Linked DNA regions of Homo sapiens: region 2 is reported to be linked to region 1. Evidence: microRNA targets listed by miRTarBase, many of them from high-throughput screens and not tested one by one. Region 1 holds a microRNA gene; the other region holds the end of a gene's coding sequence.

Region 1 (3,386 bases):
GCCGTCACAGCCGGGCTTGGCCCTGCACTTAGGATCCAAAGGGCAACTCTTGGCAGCTGGAAAGGTTCTCCCAGTCCACAGGCCGCCAGAATCCCTTCCGGCGCATGCCTGCCTGAGCTGCCACAATGCCGCGTGCTCACTGGCCCCCCAGGCCTGTCCCAGGCGAGCTGAGTAACTGCAGCCACCTGAGCCCCGGCGAGGGACAGACAGCTATGCTTCTTCAGGTCCCCGAGGGAGGCCTTCGTCCTTCGTCCATCGCTGGGCCCATCATTTACTGAGTAGCTACTGCCTGCAGCTGCAGAGGCCTCCACCTCCCACTCCTCACCTGGGCCCCTGCAAGGCAGCCGAGGCCCAGGGCACGGTCAGGCTGTGTCCTGGAGGGGAGGGTGGGCAGGGCCTCTGAGTGCTGCACAGCTGCGTCCCACATGTCAGCCCCTCGCCCAGCTGGCCCTCCCTGTGGCTCAGCACACGGGCTGCCTTGCGGCTGGTTCCCGGATGGGGAGGGTACACTGCCTGGAGCTCAGGGGCTGGCTGGGGTGAGTCCGAGGCCGGGCTCCAGCACAGCCTTCAAGTGAGGCCCACAGTGGGGCTGCTGGTACTGAAATGGCATCCTGGCTTCCCAGTAGCACATTCCTTGAGTGTGTCAGTCCCTCTGGGGACCATCTGGAGGACGGGGGCTAGAGAGCAGCCCTGGTCATTCTCCACCAAGACCACACATGAGGCCCCGATGGCACAGTGCCGGGATCCTGTGTAATTAGGGTCTGGGTGCCCTCGTTGCCCTACTCCTCTGAAAGCGAGCCAGGTTCACCTTGAACCCTGCAGAATGATGCTCTTTCTGGCGTCTTTCTCTGTCTTCCTGGGCCTTACAGGTTCTTCGGCAGTAAATCAACTAAACGGTAACACTCTTCCCTCCATCTTCCACATTCAGGCAAAGCTGGCCCCGGGGAGCTCCTGCGCAGACGTCCCTCACGGCCAGGGAGGCCGCAATGAAGGCTGAACCTGGGGAAGGGGCCCAGGTGCGGTGTAGACCTCCTCTGTCATCCAGCCCCTCCTGAGGGGGCTTGATGGGCGTCCACAAGTGGGCAGCTTTTCCGCGCTTCCCCGTGTCTGACTGTGCTGAGGGCCTCCTGAAGTGCAATTGGTTAGTCACGGTTTAGTGTTCTTTACTGCAATGCTATTTTAAGATGCAATTAAAACGTCTCATTGCCAAAGTGCGTGCTTCCTCCTGGGGGCCTCCTTCCTAACACGAAGGAGTCAGAAACCAAGGCCGGGAGGAGACCTGAGCTGAAGACTCACTTCTGGAGTGGGCACACTTTGTCCCAGCTCCGTCTTCCTGGAGCACCCAGGAGAGCCCGCTGCAAGAAGAAGCCCCACGGCAGGCCACGTGGAGGCGAATTCACCTCCTACCCAGACAGCGTGGGCAATGCTGAAACGAGCGTGAGCTCCGAATGATTTTAGTGAGGTTCAAACCTCCCCTCGGCTGTCAGCCTCTGAATCTCTTCCACTTCAGCCACGGCCACTCCATGGCTAGGGGCGGGGAGGGGACACTCAGAAGTTTGGTTTCTTCTGAGGGGCCTGAGCACACACTCAGGATGTGAGTGGGGCCGGGAAGGGCAGCAAGTGGAGCCTATGCAGGAACACTTGTGCAAGGCTGCACGGTTTCACTACCACCAGAAGGCAACTAAAAATCCCCACAACTCCAGGTGTGTCCTGGCTGGTGTCACGGAGCCTCACACACGGCTGAACCGCTTAACTCACATCCAGCCACAGAACGGCCTGCCAGGGGCTCCCCGGGGACCTGACGAGGGTCAACACTTTCCCACGACCCTCTGCCATCCCCGGTGTGCCCTTGGGGAGAAGTGTGGTGGTCCCACAGGCCCCCCTGCCAAAACCTCATGCTTGAGGAAGCACTCCCAGTGGACAGGGAGCCCCAGCTGCTGCTGCTGGACAGGTAGGGGCCCAGGGGCACAAGGGGCCACCTCCAGGCTGGGGGGAGACCTGGGGAGAGACGCCGGTTGGGTGCTCCACTGCAGACCCTGACACGCGAGGTGTGGGACATGGACGGCATTCGAGGTCCCACCCCGCTGAAGGAGCTTGACACGGAGCCCTGCAGGGGGCAGAGGCGGCCCAGGGAGAGGCGCAGGCAGGGGACGCAGCTTGGGACGGGCCTACAGCTGGCCCAGGAAGGTGCTCCCCGAGGCTGCCACGTGCCCAGCACCTCCCCTTGGTGACCATCCCCCCAAAGCTGGGGGGAGTCCAGGGCCCAGCACTCCTTTCTCCAGGCTTCCCCCAGGACATCCTGCTGTGGCTTGGCACAGGCCGGGCACTGACAGAGGGGACCCGTCTGGTTGCATCCGATCCTTCGATGCTCCTGCAGGGGTGGAGGGGCGCGTGGGTACAGTCAGCAGGGCTGTGGCCGTACCGTGCAAGCCACTCCAGCACCTGAGCGTGTCCTCCTCTGCGAGTGGGACAGGAAAGCCTGCCTCGCACAGCTGCTGCCAGGACGGAGACAGTATGCTGCTGGTCAGTGAGTGGGCACAGCCAGGGTCACTGTCCCGCCATCAGAAGGAGGACAGGGGTGCGGGGAGGAGGGGCCTGAGCCCGAGGCTCCTGGACTCACAGTGGGCACAGGGTCTGTGCAGCCAAGGCCCCACCTGGCGGGCGCGGGAGGCAGGCCCTGACTGCAGCGGGGAGAGCAGAGCGAAGGGGTCTCCTCTTCCCTCCTAGCAATGCTGTGTGGCTGATACGCTGACCAGCTACTTGACACCTGGCACAGCCTGCTGGGCTCAGGGTGGGGAGACGCATGATTCCTATCTTGTCTGTAGCTTTCCTGAGGCTGACGCAGGGCCCAGCGCTCCGGAGGGAGACTTGATCACACACAGGCAGTGCACAGAATGTCAATGTGGGAGAGGCCGGCGGCTCTGACCTTGGTGTGTTACAGCCCTTGCCACCTCCCTCCGCTGCCCTGCATGGGGACTCAAACCACAAACAGCAGCTCGGAAACAAGCAGACACGCGTCGGACTCTGGTTCACGGGGAAGAGCGCTGTTTAGGAGATGGACGTGCTCCACGCAGAGACGCGTCGGGCTCTGATTCATGGGGAAGAGCTCTGTTTAGGAGATGGACGTGCTCCACGCAGACACGCGTCCGGCTCTGGTTCACGGGGAAGAGCGCTGTTTAGGAGACGGACGTGCTCCACGCAGACATGCGTCCGGCTCTGGTTCACGGGGAAGAGCGCTGTTTAGGAGACGGACGTGCTCCACGCAGACACGCGTCCCGCTCTGGTTCACGGGGAAGAGCGCTGTTTAGGAGATGGACACGCTCCACGCAGACACGCGTCGGGTTCCGGCTCACGGGGAGGAGCGCGCTGTTTAGGAGATGGACACG
Region 2 (3,386 bases), not on the chromosome of region 1:
CCAGGACTTTGTGACCTGCCTGGGCAAGATAGCAAGACCCCATGTCTTCGAAAAGACAGAGCTCCCCTTCCCACCCCTCCTGGCCCCAGCGAGTGTCCCTCTCCCCTGCAGGTCTGCACTGTGGGAGCGCCCTCTTCCGCCACGAGGTCGGCTACGTCCTGGGACAGCTGCAGCACGAGGCGGCGGTGCCCCAGCTGGCGGCCGCCCTGGCCCGATGCACCGAGAACCCCATGGTGCGGCACGAGTGCGCGGAGGCCCTGGGCGCCATTGCCCGGCCCGCCTGCCTGGCCGCGCTGCAGGCTCACGCGGACGACCCAGAGCGCGTGGTGCGTGAGAGCTGCGAGGTGGCTCTGGACATGTATGAGCACGAGACCGGGCGGGCCTTCCAGTACGCGGACGGCCTGGAGCAGCTGCGCGGGGCCCCCTCCTAGGGCCCCACCCTCACCCGGAGCTCCCGGAGGACTCTTGAGGGCCGCTCCTCCCCCGCAGAGCTTTGGCGTCTAAACCGGGTGTGTGTAAATCGGTGTCATCGCTTGTGTCTTGCTGGGCGCATGGTTGCTGTCCCCCTCCTCCGTCTGGGACCGAGGAGCTGCCGTTGTGCTGTGACTCCCTGAGTCCCCTGACTGCTCCTCGGGGCCTGGCGCAGGGCTGTAGCGTGGAAGTTTCCAGGCTTGGGGTGGGACTCTGCGGGAGGCTCTGGGATGCCCGGCTCAGGACAGGGGAGGATTGCGAGGGAAGCCAGGGGAGGATCGCGAGGGAAGCCAGGGGAGGATCGCGAGGGAAGCCAGGGGAGGATCGCGAGGGAAGCCAGGGGAGGATCGCGAGGGAAGCCAAGGGAGGATCGCGAGGGGAGCCAGGGGAGGATCGCGAGGGAAGCCAGGGGCAGAGCTGGGGCTCTGGGAAGAGGCTGACGTTATGGTGGCTTCAGCTTCACTAGGAATGGGACACAGGGTCTGGGGGCCTCTGACTCCCCCACCCCGAGGCCTGGGTAGGGACAGGGTGGTGGTCCCTGAGTGGGTCAGGTAGGGCACAGGGGCCAGGGAGGGACAAGCAGACCTCAGAGCGCTGCCCAGATGGAATATTAAATTATTTTTGCCAAGCACTGACTCCTCTGAGTGTGTTGGGTGAGGGGAGCGTGGGAGGGAGGGAGGGGTGGGGGCTTTCAGGGAACGTTCCCCGAGAGTGTGTGGCGTCTGGGCGGGGAGACGGTTGTATCCGCAGCCATTGGCTCTAGGATCTGTCCTGCTGCTGACACTGAGCCACCACCAGCGACAGGCAGGCCTGCACCTGTTTTATGTGCGGTTACCTGGTCAGATCTGCCCAGCCAGCTCCCTCCAAGTGGGCTCTGGGGAAACAGCCCTCCAGCCTGGCCCTTCCCGGACCCCCGTCTTCCCCCAGCTCCTGTTGTGGGTGCAGTGGAAGGGGTTCTGTGGTCCAGCTGAGAGCCCAGACATGGCTTCCTCCGCCGGCTCCCGCAGCCCTTCCATGTGTGGCTGGGGACAGCCCACTTACCTCTCTGTAAAATAGGCATAGCGGTAGAATCTCAGGTGCAGAGCTCCTGGTCTGCAGCCAGAGAGGCCAAAACCAGAAGACAGGAGGCAAAACGCAACGGGAACCGACTATCCACTGAGCCATGTTCTCCACCGGAGTGCTGGATCCTGCCCCGGGGCATCAGTTTAGCTTGTCATGGGGTGGGGGGTGGGGGTGTGCAGCTGGCATCTAGTCAGGTAGTCGGGGGAGGCCAGGGATGCTGGAAGATAACCTCCAGCACTCGGTCCCCACAACAGAGAATGATCCGGCCCCAAATGAGTGCAGAGGTTGAGAAACCTGCCTGGAAGTCACATGTTTGATTATAGGTTTTTAATTTTAATTTATTTTATTATTTTTGTTGAGATGGAATTTCACTCTTATTACCCAGGCTGGAGTGCAATGGCGTGATCTCGGCTCACTGCAACCTCTGCCTGCCAGGCTCAAGCACTTCTCCTGCCTCAGCTTAACAAGTAACTGGGATTACAGGCATGCACCATCATGCCCAGCTAAATTTTTTTTTTGTTTTTTTTTTTTTTTCGAGATGGAGTCTCGCTCTGTTGCCCAGGCTGGAGTGCAGTGGCACGATCTCCACTCACTGCAAGCTCCGCCTCCCGGGTTCACGCCATTCTCCTGCCTCAGCCTCCCGAGTAGCTGGGACTACAGGCGCACGCTGCCACGCCCGGCTAATTTTTTGTATTTTTAGTAGAAACGGGGTTTCACTGTGTTAGCCAGGATGGTGGATGGTCTCGATCTCCTGCCTCGGCCTCCCAAAGTGCTGGGCTTACAGGTGTGAGCCACCGTACCTGGCCTGTTTGTATTTTTTAGTAGAGACAGGCTTTCACCATGTTGGTCAGGCTGGTCTCAAATTCCTGACCTCAGGTGATCCACCCGCCTCGGCTTCCCAAAGTGCTGAGATTACAGGCATGAGCCACCACACCCAGCCTTTTTTTTGCCTCCCCCCGAGATGGAGTCTTGCTCTGTCACCCAGGCTGGAGTGCATTGGCGTGATCTCAGCTCACTGCAACCTCTGCCTCCCGGGTTCAAGTGATTCTCTTGCCTCAGCCTCCCAAGTAGCTGGGATTACAGGCACGTGCCACCATGCACGCCCAGCTAATTTTTGTATTCTTAGTAGAGATGGGGTTTCACCATGTTGGCCAGGCTGGTCTTGAACTCTTGACCTTGTGATCAGCCCGCCTTGGCCTCCCAAAGTGCTGAGATTACAGACGTGAGCCACTGCGCTTGGCTCACTTTTTTTTTTTTTAAATGGAGAGGGTCTCCCTCTGTCTCCCAGGCTGTAGTGCAGTGGCTGATCACTGCAGCTTACTGCAGCCTCAACCTCCTGGGCTCAAGCGATCCTCCTATCTTGGCCTCCCAAGCAGTTGGGACCTCAGGTTTGCCCCACTGTGCCTGAGTAATATTTGTATTTTTTTGTAGAGACGGGGTCTCAGTATGTTTTGTTCTGTGTTGAGACAGGGTCTCACTCTGTTGCCCAGGCTGGAGTGCGGTGGTGCAATCTCAGCTCATTGCAACCTCTGCCTCCCAGGTTTAAGCAATTCTTGTGCCTCAGCCTGCTGAGTAGCTGGGACTACAGGCACATGCCTCTATGCCTGGCTGATTTTTGTATTTTTAGTAGAGACAGGGTTTCACCATGTTGGCCTGGCTGGTCTTGAACTCCTGGCCTCAAATGATCTGCCCTCCTCAGCCTCCCAAAGTGCTGGGATTATAGATATGAGCCACGTGCCTGGCCATCTTGTTTATGTTTTAGAGACAGAGTGTTGCTCTATTGCCCAGGCTGGAGAGCAGTGGCTCGATCTAAGCTCGCTGCAACTTCTGTCTCCCAGGCTCAAGTGATCCTC

Evidence for each region. Region 1 holds the annotated microRNA hsa-miR-4655-3p (ACCCUCGUCAGGUCCCCGGGG, at 1,789-1,809, opposite strand). A microRNA usually pairs through its seed, bases 2 to 8, with sites in the 3' UTR of a target mRNA and lowers its output. Matches are read on the target gene's strand: a 7mer-m8 pairs with bases 2 to 8, a 7mer-A1 pairs with bases 2 to 7 and ends in A, and an 8mer does both.
Region 2: miRTarBase lists DOHH as a target of hsa-miR-4655-3p. Seed matches in the 3' UTR shown: 7mer-A1 at 730-736, 7mer-A1 at 753-759, 7mer-A1 at 776-782, 7mer-A1 at 799-805, 7mer-A1 at 822-828 and 7mer-A1 at 868-874.

Annotation. Positions count from the first base shown.
Region 1 is chr7:1,842,401-1,845,786 of GRCh38, forward strand. It overlaps MIR4655 (microRNA 4655), which reads right to left and starts at 1,853; the gene lies at 1,780-1,853. All of the region lies in intron 18 of MAD1L1 (mitotic arrest deficient 1 like 1), which reads right to left. All of the region lies in intron 1 of LOC100127955 (a long non-coding RNA gene), which reads left to right.
Region 2 is chr19:3,488,537-3,491,922 of GRCh38, reverse strand. It overlaps DOHH (deoxyhypusine hydroxylase), which reads left to right. Exons shown (of 5, transcript NM_001145165.2): 5 at 112-1,099. The coding sequence ends at 431. LOC105372246 (a long non-coding RNA gene) reads right to left here. Exons shown (of 5, transcript XR_936264.2): 3 at 1,513-1,831; 4 at 1,307-1,401; 5 at 562-648. Among named protein-coding and RNA genes, the nearest start is that of SMIM44, 6.8 kb to the right of the region's middle.